2 separate regions of the Homo sapiens genome follow, and region 1 is linked to region 2. Evidence: fine-mapped expression QTL. A gene starts in region 2. The other region holds a variant in brackets. All regions are shown on one strand. Distances are from middle to middle. Region 1 overlaps CELSR1 (cadherin EGF LAG seven-pass G-type receptor 1). Region 2 holds the start of CELSR1 (cadherin EGF LAG seven-pass G-type receptor 1).

Region 1 (8,317 bases), 170 kb after region 2:
TTCACCTCCACCCAGGGCCACTGAGGTGGGGGCAGGTTGGGCGGGGTGGCAGCCGCCACTTCCTGATGTGACAGGGAGGCGATACCTTGCCTAGATTAGGTGCTTACTGTGAGAGACGCTGAGATGAAGAACATGGCCTAGAAAGGGGCTCGTATGGCTTTGTCGAAAAGCCACCTCGATGTCCAGGCGGAGCAGGTCTCTGCGATGCCTCTGCCCTTTGGACTCTAAATCCAGATAGTTCACGTTTCCTACTTGCTTTAAAAACAGGTTTCGGTTTGTTTTGTTTAACACTTAGGTCTGTCTTGTACAAGATCTTAAAATAACTCCCGGGGAGCCTCAGACTGAGCTGCAGGCACTGGTCACTGGCTGCTGCCTCCCCCGGCCATCCAGGGCTTCCCTGACTGTCCTCAGTGGTCCTGGTTAACTGGCTCCTCCAGAGGGCAGTGGGAAGTGCTGGAGGGTGTTAAACAGGAGGGAGCTGGGATCTCTTCAATATTTAAATAAGGAGAGTGGGGAGGAGCATAGCCTAGGCCAGGGTGGGGCAAGGGGCACAGAAAGACCAGGTCTCACCTGCTGGTTGCTCCTGTCCCAAGTGTCACCTTGATGCTCTGCATGGACAGGCGGATCTGGTTTGTCACACTGTGGCTGGGAGTGACAACTGTGCTTCAGAGCATTTCTTCCTCTATCTAAACAAGCAGCTCGTATAGCAGGCTCGGTGGTGAGGCAGTTTCGGGGGTGTGTGTGTGGTGTGCACGTGTGTATGGTGTGTGCCTCTGTGGTGTGTGTGTATATCTGTGATGCGTGTCTGCACACGGTATGTGTGTCTGCATGCATGTGTATAGGGTATGTACATGTGTATGGCATGTGCACGTGGTTGGATGTGGTATGGGGGTATATGCGTTCCTCACCCGCTCACATATGGCCCTGTAGGTGACGCCGTCCTCCATCTGTTTTGGAGCCTCATCCCTTGCACCTTGGGTCCATCATGGCCTCCTGACCTCTACATGGCCCAGCTGGCAGGGTCCTCCCAAGCACCGTCTGCCTTCACGATCCCTCCTGCACCATCTCACTGCCACCCTCCAGGGTCTCTGGTCTTCCTCAGCAGCCCCCGGCCCAGATACGCCCCCTGCCTCATGGGGCCAATCCAGGAGCAGCTCCTGCCACCTGGGCCAGTGAGCCTGAGACCCTACACGGAGAGACTGTGCTTGGAGGGGCCCTGGGCTGGCTCCCTGGACTCCTTGCTCCTTCCTCTGAGAAGGGAGATGCTGAGTCCCCCATTTCACCCCACCCTGGCTGGTCCTTGGCATGGGGTGGCCACTGGGCACGTGGCCCTCACCCTTCCCTTCCTCCCCGCTGTGTTCAGGACTGGCGGTCGGCCTGGACCCCCAGGGCTACGGGAACCCCGACTTCTGCTGGCTGTCGCTTCAAGACACCCTGATTTGGAGCTTTGCGGGGCCCATCGGAGCTGTTATAATCGTGAGTGTGGGGCCTTCACGGGAGTCCGGGTGCCCCAAACATGCATGAGCTGGAAGGGCTGTTCTGGGTTGGCTGGGGCCACCAACTCCTCTGAGCAGCCGACGGGGGGCAGGAAGGGCCACCTTGTAACAGTCAGCAAAGCCGCCAGGGCCCTCCCGGACCTCACCCTCTGATCGTGGATTCAGGTCTCGCGTCGTGTCCGCATGAGACCATCTGCGTCCAGCACCCAGGAGGGTCCCGCACAGGCAGGCTGGGTGTGGTGGGCGCTGTGGGGCAGTGGGTGGACAGGTGTGCTTCGCCCCACAGGCCAGGGTTCGGGTCCTCCTCACCCAGCCACCCCTCCCTGACAGGGCGAAGGGCCTCAGGCGCTTTTGGCAGTTGGAGGTCTGCAGTGACGAGAGAGAAGACATTGATCGGCTTGTTTTGTTTTCAGATCAACACAGTCACTTCTGTCCTATCTGCAAAGGTTTCCTGCCAAAGAAAGCACCATTATTATGGGAAAAAAGGGATCGTGTAAGTGGGGCTGAACCTGACCGGCCAGCCATGTCGGCTGGGCCCTGAGACCCCGACGTCCAGTCTCTGCGGGGTGGGGCCCCATGAGAGCGTGTAGGCCTCATGGAGGAGGGCTGGGGGCAGCCTGGGTGAGCCCCAGGGCTCCAGAGAGGTTTGCCACGTTGCACCTGCAGGGGCTGGGGGAGGTTAGCTGAGGGGAGGGGGCTGGAGGAGGTTAGCTGAAGGGAGGGGGCTGGCAGCCAGTCCTGGGCCTCAGTCCCTCCCGCCTGGCACAGAAGTATTGGGCTGTCTGGAATCCCCAGAGTGGAGATGGGTGGGGTGGGGGAGATGAAACTTTCTGGTGGGTGGTGAGGGTGTTGCTGAGGCCACTGGAGGGGAGGAGACCCCCCCACCCCACTGTCAGAGGGTGCAGTGGAACAGGGGCCCAGCACAGAGGGAACCTCCAGTGTTCTAGGGAGGAGAGGGGACCTTCGAGGCCCCAAAGGAGCAGGTGGCACCGCGGGAGGACTCAGCACAGCGTCCAGGAGCCACGACAGGGTCAGGAGGGGTTGACGGGGGCATCTGTCAGACAACAAGGCCAGCCCCTGGTGACCTGGTAGCTGAGATGGGACTGAGCCAGGGATGGGCGAAGGGATAATGCTTGCGCAGGGGCTGGGTGTCAGGAGGAGTGTGAGGCTCCCGGCCCGGGAGGAGAGAGCCGAGTCTGAAGGGGGGTAGGGCAGAGAGGGAGAGGCAGTGAGTGGCCTGGAAGGCCGGATATGGGGGTGCACGGGGGGTCTGGGGCCTTGTCAGTTCCTCGTCTTCAGTGCCATCCACGACCTGTGGACCTTGCGGGCTCTGTCACCCGGATTCACTCCATCCCCTCTGAACCCTGGGAGGGGATGCGCCTTTGTCTTCCCCTTGTACACATGGGGAGACTGAGGCAGAGCTCAGGAAGCTGATTGCAGGGTCACAGCTCAAGGGCAGGTCCTGGGCTCTTCCTCTTGCCTCTCCACAGGGTATCTCACGGGAGCTAGTGCAGCCATGGGCATGGCTCAGGCCCCTTGGCCTGGTGTAGTCCTCACAGCTCCTGTTTTCTCATTTGCTTCCTAATGTATTCCACCACCACCCCCACTAACACGAGCTCTGTCTGGTTCCCGGATGAGTCCGTACCTGGCTACGAGGGGAGGAAGGGAGCAAGGTGGATGATGGCTGGGTGGACAGGTGGACGGACAGATAGATGGGCGGACGGGCAGGCAGGTGGACAGGTGGACGTGCAGAGAGGGAGGGAGGAAGGGAGCAGGTGGTGGCGATGGGCACAGGCCTGATCCTGCCCTCCCGCAGCTCCCTGCTGAGGACCGCATTCCTCCTGCTGCTGCTCATCAGCGCCACCTGGCTGCTGGGGCTGCTGGCTGTGAACCGCGATGCACTGAGCTTTCACTACCTCTTCGCCATCTTCAGCGGCTTACAGGTAGGTGACGGCCGAGTTGCCCGCGGGACCCCTGCCTGGCCGCCGTGACACCATCGCTGTGATGCGAAGCAGTGGAGGCCTCTGCGGTCCCAAACCAGCCCTGCCTGGGTCCCGCGTGGGGGC[C/T]TCCTGTGGCTGTGAGGACTCAGTCCCTTGTGCAGCCGGCACGGGGGCTGGTGCCTCCTCCCCACTGTGTCTGGGGACGATGACCCTAGTGCCAGGCCAGCACAAGTCCACTTGTGTCTCCAGGGAACAGAAGTGGCCATTTCTAGTCATACCAAGGGCCACACAGCAAGTGGACTTACGACACAGTGGGGACCCCAGAGGGGCCCCAAGGACTGTGGAAGGAGTGCCCAGAAGACTGGCCTGAGCCGGGGCCCTCACTGCCTCCAGCACACCGGGGGTCTGGCCCAGGCATCTCAGTTTCTGAGCTCCCCCACCTGGCCTCCAGATAGCAGCAGTCCCTGAGGAGGGGAGGCCTGGCCGTGTCCTGGGCCGTGTGGCCGGACATGTTGTGTGCACTCAAGGCTGTATGCGCATCTGTGCTGGGGCGCCTAAGGGCAGGTGCCTAGGGAGGCAGCAGCAGGTGCTGACCCCACCTTCCTCCCTCCAGGGCCCCTTCGTCCTCCTTTTCCACTGCGTGCTCAACCAGGAGGTCCGGAAGCACCTGAAGGGCGTGCTCGGCGGGAGGAAGCTGCACCTGGAGGACTCCGCCACCACCAGGGCCACCCTGCTGACGGTAGGAGGCGCCGGGGACACCGCGGGACTGGGGGCTGGGCGGCATCTCGAGGGGCGGGGGAGGGTGATCGAGCCTCAGCCCCAGTCCTGCGGCCCGTATGCCCCTCACGGTGGGGATGGCAGAGCCGCCCGCGGTGCACGGTGTGGCTGCCGCGTCAGAACCAGAAAGTGACAGAATCGGCCAGATGGGGCCTGGGTCGCATCCTAACCCTGCTCTTCCAGGCCTTAGAAAGAGAGGGTCAGGACCACCGAGGATCCTGACCAGAAGCAGTGGCCGTAGGGAGGGCGGCAGCCCCTGACCACAGCGCGGGCCAGGATGTGCTTCCCTCAGCTGCCAGGAGGCTCTCGTTTGCAGTGAGGGTTGACTGCTTGGGGCCAGCTCCTCCTGTGTGCCAGGCAGGGGCCCAGCCAGGGTGTGGGTGTGGGGGGCTTGCCGTGGGGACAGAGTCATTCCCCGTGGTGGTCATGTGGTGGCCACCACTTGGCAGTGACCAGCCCCTCCCCTCCCTTCAGCGCTCCCTCAACTGCAACACCACCTTCGGTGACGGGCCTGACATGCTGCGCACAGACTTGGGCGAGTCCACCGCCTCGCTGGACAGCATCGTCAGGTCAGGCCGCAGCTCCGGGTTCGGGGAGGTGGCTCTCGAACTCCCTCAGGTTTTGCCCCTGCCACCCCAACCTGTGTCCTGCCATTCAACCAACATCACCTTCCACCCCCAACTTTCCACCCGCACCTTCTTCCCACCCGCAACTTCCCTCCCTGCCCCGCACCTTCCCTCCCCGCCTCGCACCTTCCCTTCCCCTGCACCTTCCCCCAACAACCTTTCCCCCACCAACTTCCCCCAACCAACCTTTTCCCGTGCAACCTTCCCCCCCGCACCTTCCCCGCACTGCACCTTCCCCCCGCAGCCTTCCCCCCTCCACCTTCCCCCTCCACCTTTCCCCTGACAACCTTTCCCCCCAACCTTTCCCCCAGCACCTTCCCCCCAACCTTTCCCCCCACCACCTTCCCCCCCAGCCTTTCCCCCCACCACCTTTCCCCCACCCAGCCTTTCCCCCCACCACCTTCCCCCACCCAACCTTTCCCCCCACCACCTTCCCCCACCCAACCTTTCCACCCACCACCTTCCCCCCACCCAACCTTTCCCCCCACCACCTTTCCCCCACATACTCGGGAGGCTGTTTTGTCTGTGCTGTTGTTGGGAACACAGAAGGGGTAGGGGCAGAGAATCTTCCAGAGAACTTTCCAGCACCTCCTGTTCCCTGACGGATGATACTGAGCCCACCCTCCCTGGCCTCTCTAGGGATGAAGGGATCCAGAAGCTCGGCGTGTCCTCTGGGCTGGTGAGGGGCAGCCACGGAGAGCCAGACGCGTCCCTCATGCCCAGGAGCTGCAAGGATCCCCCTGGTATGGCTTCCCTGGAGGGGGAGGACCCCGTGGGTTGTTTTTCCCACGTCCCTTCGGTCACTGGACAGACTGCCCCTGAAGAAGCACTAGCAGCCTCGCCATGCTCAGCGTCAGCATGCCAGGGGCCCAGTGGCTCTGCTTGGCCCTCGGTGGGACTCCCTCACCTCCCAGGGCCTGAGCCTCCCTGTCCCCCGCGCATCCACAGGCCACGATTCCGACTCAGATAGCGAGCTGTCCCTGGATGAGCAGAGCAGCTCTTACGCCTCCTCACACTCGTCAGACAGCGAGGACGATGGGGTGGGAGCTGAGGAAAAATGGGACCCGGCCAGGGGCGCCGTCCACAGCACCCCCAAAGGTGAGTGTGTGGGGCACATTGGGCCAGGCTGGGCTGTGGACAGCGGGCTCGGGGCAGGCCTTGGCTATGGCTGGGTCCCTTCCTCCCAGGATATGCCCAGCAGCACTGCAGCCACATGAAAGGACAGCCTGGGGTGGGGGGACTCTGGTTGGGCTCCCCCACAGCCTCTGGAGGGCTCCTCCAGGCCAACCCCCTGAGCGGAGGCAGGAACTCTCAGGGGGGTCTCTGTGGACTGTCACCGCAAGGTCCAGGTGAGGCTGCCAGTGGGGGATTAGCCTGTATAGTTACTGGTACAGATGCGGCGGGGGCTCCCAACAAGGGCCCTGCTGCCAGGACTCGCCCTCCTGGGCCTCAGTTTCCCCACCTTTAGGGTTCAGCCCTACCAGGCCTGCAGGTTGGGGAGAGGTGGGTCAGAGCCACCAGACCCATGGCTCTCAAGGGAGCAGCTCGAGTGGCAGTGCCGCTGCCTGCTGAGCACCGCTCTCGTGCCTCAGGGGACGCTGTGGCCAACCACGTTCCGGCCGGCTGGCCCGACCAGAGCCTGGCTGAGAGTGACAGTGAGGACCCCAGCGGCAAGCCCCGCCTGAAGGTGGAGACCAAGGTCAGCGTGGAGCTGCACCGCGAGGAGCAGGGCAGTCACCGTGGAGAGTACCCCCCGGACCAGGAGAGCGGGGGCGCAGCCAGGCTTGCTAGCAGCCAGCCCCCAGAGCAGAGGAAAGGTGCCTGGGGAGGCCGGGGCTGCAGTGAAAGGCTGGAGGACCCAGAAGGGCCAGTCCCTGGTCTGGAGGTGGGAGTGGGGCTGGGGCTGGTGGGGCAAGTCAGGGCCTGGGCAGAACAGACGTGGCCTCCTGGCCTAGCCCTGGGACCCGGGGAACCAGGAGGAAGGACAGGGGCTGAGGCTGGCTCAGCTGCACACGGCCCAGCAGCTGCCCCCGGCAGCATCACCCGGACTTGACCTTGCCGTGTCTCCTCCTCCCAGGCATCTTGAAAAATAAAGTCACCTACCCGCCGCCGCTGACGCTGACGGAGCAGACGCTGAAGGGCCGGCTCCGGGAGAAGCTGGCCGACTGTGAGCAGAGCCCCACATCCTCGCGCACGTCTTCCCTGGGCTCTGGCGGCCCCGACTGCGCCATCACAGTCAAGAGCCCTGGGAGGGAGCCGGGGCGTGACCACCTCAACGGGGTGGCCATGAATGTGCGCACTGGGAGCGCCCAGGCCGATGGCTCCGACTCTGAGTGAGTAGCCTGGGCCTCCAGGGCGGGGATCACCCACTTCCCCCTTGTCCTGAGTCAGGAGAGAGAGGGGGCAGTGGTCAGGGACCTGACACCCACCTCACCTGGAGCCCTGAGTGCAGAGGAAGCCCAGGCGGGGATGGGGGAGGGGGGAGGCGCTGCAGCTGAGGTCAGGAGGATACCCCGGAGATGGGCAGACCCCCTATCCTGGGGACACGTCTCAGGCCTCTGGGACTCTGAAGCCCTGGCCAGCCCCAAAATGCTAGGACCTAAGGTGCTGGGCTCTGCGTTTGATCAGCATTGTCTCCGCCTGGGACCACTGCCACCCACCTTGCAGTTGAGGATACTGAGGGTCCCGGAATGCCAGGGGTGAAGGGGGCGGGGTGGAGCTGGGGTCCTGGCCCCAGACCTCTCCCTGTCGCCCCTCCCTCCCTCCAAACTCACAAGGGAGAAGCCAGGTCTTCAGAATGCCCCTTCCAAAAGTCACTGTAGAGATGGCCGGTTTCTAACGTGGATTCCTTGCGCTCTTCTGAAAGACCAGCAACACAGAGGCCCACAGGCTGGTCCTGGTCCCCTCTCCTGCCTCCCAAGGGCAGCCTCATCCAACATGAGCTTGCCCTCCCTGGAGCCCCCAGACGCCCCCTCTACCCTGATGGGGTGATCCTGCCCCCCCGTGTGACAACCTTGGGCCCCACCAAGCCGCTACCCTCACTGACCCTTCACCTGCTTGCTGGCTTCTTCCCACGCGCAGAGGCAGTAATGAAACTTCAATTTGAACCATCAGTAATGAAACTTCAATTTGAACCATCAGGAAACCGTGAGGCAAGCCCGTCACCCCACACAGGCTGCGGCATCACCCTCAGACCTTGGAGCCCAAGGGGCCACTGCCCTTGAAGTGGAGTGGGCCCAGAGTGTGGCGGTCCCCATGGTGGCAGCCCCCCGACTGATCATCCAGACACAAAGGTCTTGGTTCTCCCAGGAGCTCAGGGCCTGTCAGACCTGGTGACAAGTGCCAAAGGCCACAGGCATGAGGGAGGCGTGGACCACTGGGCCAGCACCGCTGAGTCCTAAGACTGCAGTCAAAGCCAGAACTGAGAGGGGACCCCAGACTGGGCCCAGAGGCTGGCCAGAGTTCAGGAACGCCGGGC
Region 2 (8,317 bases):
CAGACCCTGTGCCGACCGCTTCACACAGATTGTCTTGTTAATCCTTCAACAACGCTAGGAGTCTAGGACTATTGTGTCCAGTTAGAACAAGGAGTTAGGCCTTGGCGAAGGTCACACAACTAGTTAGTGGCAGAATTAAAGCTCAACCCCTCGAAGGTGCCAGTCATTCCAAACTCGTGATTTCTGATGCGGCCGGACCACCTGGCCGTCTCAGCACAAGCTGCGGCCTCCGTCTTGTTAGTCCCTCTCCCCTCCCCACTTACTTAAAATTGTGGATTCTAGGCCCGGCGCGGTGGCTCATGCCTGTAATCCCAGCACTTTGGGAGGCTGAGGTGGGTGGATCACCTGAGGTCAGGAGTTCCAGACCAGCCTGGTCAACATGGCGAAACCGTCTCTACTAAACATACACACATTAGTCAGGACTGGTGGTGTGTGCCTATAATCCCAGCTACTCTGGAGGCTGAGGCAGGAGAATTGCTTGAACCCAGGAGGTGGAGGTTGCATTGAGCTGAGATCGCGCCACTGTCCTCCAGCCTAGGTGAGAGAGCAAAACTCCGTCTCAAAAATAAATAAAGTAAAATAAAATAAAACTGTGGACTCTAAATAGGGTGTGGTGGCTCATACCTGTAATCCTAGCACTTTGAGAGGCTGAAGTGGGAGGATCTCTTGAGCCCAGAAGTTTGAGATCAACCTAGGCAACATAGCAAGACCCCATCTCTATTTAGCAATAAATAAAAATAGGCCAGGCACGGTGGCTCATGCCTGTAATCCCAGCACTTTGGGAGGCCGAGGTGGGCGGATCACGAGGTTGGGAGTTCGAGACCAGCCTGACCAACATGGAGAAACCCCGTCTCTACTGAAAATACAAAATTAGCCGGGCGTGAGGCGCACGCCTGTAATCCCAGCTACTAGGGAGGCTGAGGCAGAATTGCTTGAACCTGGAAGGCGGAGGTTGTGGTAAGCTGAGATCGTGCCATTGCACTCCAGCCTGGGCAACAACAGTGAAACTCTGTCTCAAAAAAACAAAACAAAACAAAACAAAACAAAACAAAAAAAAACAAAAACTGCCGACTCTAGATGCAGGCATAGGGAAAAGTACGCAAATCATGTGTTTGGAGTTCAAAGTGTGATCATGAAGCCGACACTCTGGTAACCCTCAGGTCCAGAAGGGGATGCCCCTCCTCCCCCAGAGCCCTCCTGAATGTGCCCATAATCACCTCCTTGTTTTTCTTCATCTTTCCCCTATTTGTGCACACCTCTAAACGTTATGGTGGAGTCGGGCTTGCTGTCGGTCTAAGCGTGAATGGAATGATCTTTTGTCTTTGCTGGACATCCTGTTAGTGAGATTCATCCATCCTCCCCTGTCCCTAGGTGTTGGGCAGTCCCTGTGGTTACCTCGCAGCCTGCAGGTGCCTTATTCCAGAAAAGCAGGCCCACACCTGAACCCACTGGCTGCAGCTGAGTTTTGTTTATTTAAACCCAACCCACTCTGCTTAAAGCCTTATTGCAAAACAGGCACTCCTGGGGTTCTCTGGTTTTTCCTCCTGCCTGGGTCCCCTTCAGGTCCGCCCAGTAGCCTTCCACTGGGAGGCTCCGGGCTCAGGGACCCGCCCTGCCTTCCGGCCCCAGAACTCCTGTCCTTTCATCCTTCCCGGAAAAATCCCAGTGGAAGGGTATATGGCGGGTGGGGAGGTCCTGGACCGCTCACATTAAGGAGACGGACTTTTCTCCTTCCTCCCCTCCCTCCACACACACATTTCCCAACAGGACTCTCCAGTGGAAACCTCGAATTAAAAGGTTCCAAAGCAACTCCACCTTTTAGATCAATATAACGTGTTCAAATCCTTGCTACTGGGAAGAAAATGCTCACATTGGGCTTCAGCACAAAGACACTGTTTCAGCAGCTTTGAGCGAAGTTGGCTGAGTATGCGTGTGACACACACACAGACACATCGCTCCGGGGGAGAAACCCTTCCGGTTCTCCACAGCCGCCCACGGTCCTCGTTGAGACTGGACTCATCTCAGCTCAGCTCAGAGATTTGGCTGCAGGATCCGACCCTCCCTTGCCAAAAAGACCCGTTCTAGGGGTGACTGCGCATTACTCCCACCCCCACCGCTCCGACCGGCCCCAGGAGAAGCCCTTCTAGGAGAGAAGAGGCGACCCCCACCTACCGTCCCCGACCACTGGGAGGCCTAAGGGCTGCACTGGACTCCGGCGCCCCGAGCGCCACCAAGGGAGTGCGCGCCCTTCCCAGCCGCTGGTGGCACAGTCCCAAAGCCCCGCCCATGCGGGGGGTCGCCAAGTCCTAAGCCTCCACCCCCTTTATCCCTGTGCCCCATCCGGAGGCAGGTGTACCCGTCACGCAAACCTAAAGCTGCCCCCGGCCCCCCGTGGTTCCCCGCAGGAGGCGGGGGTGTGTGTCACTTTTCTGAAAGCTCTAAGGTCTCTGCCCCCCGCCCCCCGCTGTCCTCCGTAGGAGGCTGGGCAGGGGCTGTGGCACAGCTCTAAATCCCTGCGGGTGCTTGCTTGCCCCAGGCAGCTTCCAGGACCCGCAGCCCCCCGCCTTCCCCGCAACCCGCTTCGGGAGGAGCCGGACGCTCGGGGATTCCGCGATGCGTCCGCGAACGCTCGGGTCGGGCCGCACGCGGGAGATGAGCGCGCCTCCGCCGTCCTCTCCAAATCCCTTATGTCAACCGGGGTTTTCTTCTTTCATTTAAAAGTTGCGCTTTAAACCAAGTGGGACGCAGATCCGGTAGCTGCCTATTGGGCTTCAAAGTCCAGGGAGTTTTAGTCGGGGTGAAGCATTTTAGCCTCCGTGCGTCTTGCTGTAAAATGGGTAACCCTCCTCGACAGCCTCCGCAGTCCTTAATGGGTGGGGGGGGGCTCCCCGGCCTCTCGGCCCCAGTCCTCCGCCCCCGGGTCCTACCCGCGCGGCACTCCTGGCGGCGGTCTCCGTGGATCTGTTCTGCCGGGGTGGGGAGCCAGGCTCTGAGCCGCGGCCCCGAGCCCGAGGTGCGGAGCCACCGCCCCACGGGTAGCGGCCACCGGGGGCCCCAGCCCCACCTTTCCCGGCCCTGTTGCCTCGGCCCCGCCCCACCGGGAGGCTGGGTGGGGAGGCCTCCGGGGAGTAGGGCCCCAGTCCCCGTCCCGGCCGCGCCCTCGCGTCTCCATAGCGATCCTCTCGGCGCGCACCTCCGAGCCGGCTCCCCCCGGGGCCGAACAATACGCCGCTGGGCCGGGGGCGGGGCGGGGCCGGGCCGGGGGCGGGGAGAGCGCGGGCGGAGTGGGCGCGGGCCAAGCGCACCGCCCAGGCAGCAGCCGGCCGCCGGGGTCTGCGCGGCGCGGAGCTGCCCAGCCCGCTCCGGGAACTCAGCCCCCGCCCCGCGCCGGGCCCGCCCCGCTTCCCACGCCCGTCCGGCCGAGCCCGCGCCGGAGCCACCTGGAGCCGCCTGGAGCCGCCGCCGCCGCCGCAGGTTGATGCGCGGCGCCCTCCCGGGACGCGCGGAGGAGCCATCTTGAAACCAACTTCGCAAACTTTCGCAAAGTGCTCTCGAAGTGGAAGCTGCGGGGGAGGCCGGGCGCGTGGTCCCCACAGTCCCCGCCAGGGCCCCCGGGGAGGCGGGACGCGGACCGCCCCGAGGGCCGGGCGCCCGGGAGCCGCTCCCCGGCCTCGCCGGGTGGATGCGGAGGCGCGCCGGGTGCATGGATTGTGTTCGGGCGCCCGGCTCGGGCTCGGGCTCCGGGCCATGGCGCCGCCGCCGCCGCCCGTGCTGCCCGTGCTGCTGCTCCTGGCCGCCGCCGCCGCCCTGCCGGCGATGGGGCTGCGAGCGGCCGCCTGGGAGCCGCGCGTACCCGGCGGGACCCGCGCCTTCGCCCTCCGGCCCGGCTGTACCTACGCGGTGGGCGCCGCTTGCACGCCCCGGGCGCCGCGGGAGCTGCTGGACGTGGGCCGCGATGGGCGGCTGGCAGGACGTCGGCGCGTCTCGGGCGCGGGGCGCCCGCTGCCGCTGCAAGTCCGCTTGGTGGCCCGCAGTGCCCCGACGGCGCTGAGCCGCCGCCTGCGGGCGCGCACGCACCTTCCCGGCTGCGGAGCCCGTGCCCGGCTCTGCGGAACCGGTGCCCGGCTCTGCGGGGCGCTCTGCTTCCCCGTCCCCGGCGGCTGCGCGGCCGCGCAGCATTCGGCGCTCGCAGCTCCGACCACCTTACCCGCCTGCCGCTGCCCGCCGCGCCCCAGGCCCCGCTGTCCCGGCCGTCCCATCTGCCTGCCGCCGGGCGGCTCGGTCCGCCTGCGTCTGCTGTGCGCCCTGCGGCGCGCGGCTGGCGCCGTCCGGGTGGGACTGGCGCTGGAGGCCGCCACCGCGGGGACGCCCTCCGCGTCGCCATCCCCATCGCCGCCCCTGCCGCCGAACTTGCCCGAAGCCCGGGCGGGGCCGGCGCGACGGGCCCGGCGGGGCACGAGCGGCAGAGGGAGCCTGAAGTTTCCGATGCCCAACTACCAGGTGGCGTTGTTTGAGAACGAACCGGCGGGCACCCTCATCCTCCAGCTGCACGCGCACTACACCATCGAGGGCGAGGAGGAGCGCGTGAGCTATTACATGGAGGGGCTGTTCGACGAGCGCTCCCGGGGCTACTTCCGAATCGACTCTGCCACGGGCGCCGTGAGCACGGACAGCGTACTGGACCGCGAGACCAAGGAGACGCACGTCCTCAGGGTGAAAGCCGTGGACTACAGTACGCCGCCGCGCTCGGCCACCACCTACATCACTGTCTTGGTCAAAGACACCAACGACCACAGCCCGGTCTTCGAGCAGTCGGAGTACCGCGAGCGCGTGCGGGAGAACCTGGAGGTGGGCTACGAGGTGCTGACCATCCGCGCCAGCGACCGCGACTCGCCCATCAACGCCAACTTGCGTTACCGCGTGTTGGGGGGCGCGTGGGACGTCTTCCAGCTCAACGAGAGCTCTGGCGTGGTGAGCACACGGGCGGTGCTGGACCGGGAGGAGGCGGCCGAGTACCAGCTCCTGGTGGAGGCCAACGACCAGGGGCGCAATCCGGGCCCGCTCAGTGCCACGGCCACCGTGTACATCGAGGTGGAGGACGAGAACGACAACTACCCCCAGTTCAGCGAGCAGAACTACGTGGTCCAGGTGCCCGAGGACGTGGGGCTCAACACGGCTGTGCTGCGAGTGCAGGCCACGGACCGGGACCAGGGCCAGAACGCGGCCATTCACTACAGCATCCTCAGCGGGAACGTGGCCGGCCAGTTCTACCTGCACTCGCTGAGCGGGATCCTGGATGTGATCAACCCCTTGGATTTCGAGGATGTCCAGAAATACTCGCTGAGCATTAAGGCCCAGGATGGGGGCCGGCCCCCGCTCATCAATTCTTCAGGGGTGGTGTCTGTGCAGGTGCTGGATGTCAACGACAACGAGCCTATCTTTGTGAGCAGCCCCTTCCAGGCCACGGTGCTGGAGAATGTGCCCCTGGGCTACCCCGTGGTGCACATTCAGGCGGTGGACGCGGACTCTGGAGAGAACGCCCGGCTGCACTATCGCCTGGTGGACACGGCCTCCACCTTTCTGGGGGGCGGCAGCGCTGGGCCTAAGAATCCTGCCCCCACCCCTGACTTCCCCTTCCAGATCCACAACAGCTCCGGTTGGATCACAGTGTGTGCCGAGCTGGACCGCGAGGAGGTGGAGCACTACAGCTTCGGGGTGGAGGCGGTGGACCACGGCTCGCCCCCCATGAGCTCCTCCACCAGCGTGTCCATCACGGTGCTGGACGTGAATGACAACGACCCGGTGTTCACGCAGCCCACCTACGAGCTTCGTCTGAATGAGGATGCGGCCGTGGGGAGCAGCGTGCTGACCCTGCAGGCCCGCGACCGTGACGCCAACAGTGTGATTACCTACCAGCTCACAGGCGGCAACACCCGGAACCGCTTTGCACTCAGCAGCCAGAGAGGGGGCGGCCTCATCACCCTGGCGCTACCTCTGGACTACAAGCAGGAGCAGCAGTACGTGCTGGCGGTGACAGCATCCGACGGCACACGGTCGCACACTGCGCATGTCCTAATCAACGTCACTGATGCCAACACCCACAGGCCTGTCTTTCAGAGCTCCCATTACACAGTGAGTGTCAGTGAGGACAGGCCTGTGGGCACCTCCATTGCTACCCTCAGTGCCAACGATGAGGACACAGGAGAGAATGCCCGCATCACCTACGTGATTCAGGACCCCGTGCCGCAGTTCCGCATTGACCCCGACAGTGGCACCATGTACACCATGATGGAGCTGGACTATGAGAACCAGGTCGCCTACACGCTGACCATCATGGCCCAGGACAACGGCATCCCGCAGAAATCAGACACCACCACCCTAGAGATCCTCATCCTCGATGCCAATGACAATGCACCCCAGTTCCTGTGGGATTTCTACCAGGGTTCCATCTTTGAGGATGCTCCACCCTCGACCAGCATCCTCCAGGTCTCTGCCACGGACCGGGACTCAGGTCCCAATGGGCGTCTGCTGTACACCTTCCAGGGTGGGGACGACGGCGATGGGGACTTCTACATCGAGCCCACGTCCGGTGTGATTCGCACCCAGCGCCGGCTGGACCGGGAGAATGTGGCCGTGTACAACCTTTGGGCTCTGGCTGTGGATCGGGGCAGTCCCACTCCCCTTAGCGCCTCGGTAGAAATCCAGGTGACCATCTTGGACATTAATGACAATGCCCCCATGTTTGAGAAGGACGAACTGGAGCTGTTTGTTGAGGAGAACAACCCAGTGGGGTCGGTGGTGGCAAAGATTCGTGCTAACGACCCTGATGAAGGCCCTAATGCCCAGATCATGTATCAGATTGTGGAAGGGGACATGCGGCATTTCTTCCAGCTGGACCTGCTCAACGGGGACCTGCGTGCCATGGTGGAGCTGGACTTTGAGGTCCGGCGGGAGTATGTGCTGGTGGTGCAGGCCACGTCGGCTCCGCTGGTGAGCCGAGCCACGGTGCACATCCTTCTCGTGGACCAGAATGACAACCCGCCTGTGCTGCCCGACTTCCAGATCCTCTTCAACAACTATGTCACCAACAAGTCCAACAGTTTCCCCACCGGCGTGATCGGCTGCATCCCGGCCCATGACCCCGACGTGTCAGACAGCCTCAACTACACCTTCGTGCAGGGCAACGAGCTGCGCCTGTTGCTGCTGGACCCCGCCACGGGCGAACTGCAGCTCAGCCGCGACCTGGACAACAACCGGCCGCTGGAGGCGCTCATGGAGGTGTCTGTGTCTGGTGAGTGGCCGTCGGGGTGGGAGGAGTAGCTCCTGATGGGCCTCCTGGAGAGCCTCAGGAACCCGCCAAGGGCTCCGCCTGGCATGCCGGGGCGCAATTGGGCCGGGCCCGGGCAACTCTGCAAGGATTTGTTGCCGCCGGTTGGATGCTGGGGGTGGGCGCCCGGCCTAGGCCCAGCGAGGGGGAGAGGCACCGCGCCGCTTCCGTCAGCATTTTCCTGGGAGCAGGCCTGCGGTTCTCCCAAGTTCAAGACCGGGGATCAGCGCCTTCCTCAGCAGGCTAGTGGCTCCTGAGTACAGCTATTAAAAAGTGGCCTCCAGGTGATCTGGGTCACAGGATTTGCTTGGAGATGCTCTTTCGTCAGCCAGCCACAGGGCTCTCTGGGAAGATCAGAGGTCACTGCCCCTTCCCAGTGCCAATTAATTCCAGGGTGGGACCGTTGGAATTGTCAGATGGGTCCCTGAGTCACCCTATAATGCAGCCGGTGTTCCCTTGGTCTGGCTTTTCTGTCTCCTGCAGATAATAACAGTCGGGCTTAGGTGTGTAGGGCTTTGTGCAAGCTCTTTGAAAAGCATAGCCTCATTTGATCTTGGCTTCTGCTCCTGGATGCGGGCTTGTAATTTGGGTGCTGTTGAAGAGGCCTGCCCAGTTAGTGGTGGAGCCAGTGTGGGCACCTCGCTCACCTGCTCTGGGGCTGGAGGTGAACAGGAGGGAGAGGAAACCTTGGCTCAGCAGTCAGAAGTTTGGCCGGTCCTCTATGCCTCTGACCCTGTGTGCCGGGGCTGGTCTGCGGTGCTGGGGAGGGGGACTAATAGAAAGTGTTGGAATTGGGAGACACAGAAGAGAGAGAAGAACTTCGAGGGGCCTGGGGGAACAGTAAAGGTCCCCCAGTGGCTCTTTGAGGTTTGCCTGACCGTGCATCCAAGGATGCTGGTGCAGGCAGGTGACCTTATTTATAAGCCCAAACTACTGCCAAGAAGAGCTCAGATTGGCTGGCTGTTTGAGTCAGTGTTTCAGAGAAATTGT

What was found. PIP is the estimated chance that this variant, and not a neighbour inherited with it, causes the effect.
Region 1: its variant is fine-mapped to the expression of CELSR1 in whole blood (INTERVAL, PIP above 0.99).

The regions. Positions count from the first base shown.
Region 1 is chr22:46,362,851-46,371,167 of GRCh38, reverse strand. CELSR1 (cadherin EGF LAG seven-pass G-type receptor 1) reads left to right here. Exons shown (of 35, transcript NM_001378328.1): 26 at 1,364-1,476; 27 at 1,910-1,989; 28 at 3,313-3,439; 29 at 4,050-4,175; 30 at 4,688-4,782; 31 at 5,479-5,582; 32 at 5,788-5,937; 33 at 6,432-6,656; 34 at 6,917-7,172; 35 at 7,921-8,317. The coding sequence ends at 7,945. Among named protein-coding and RNA genes, the nearest start is that of TRMU, 31 kb to the right of the region's middle. RefSeq lists an enhancer at 3,203-3,262. The variant C/T (reference allele first, on the strand shown) is at 3,563.
Region 2 is chr22:46,532,601-46,540,917 of GRCh38, reverse strand. CELSR1 (cadherin EGF LAG seven-pass G-type receptor 1) reads left to right here and starts at 3,298. Exons shown (of 35, transcript NM_001378328.1): 1 at 3,298-7,291. The coding sequence starts at 3,748.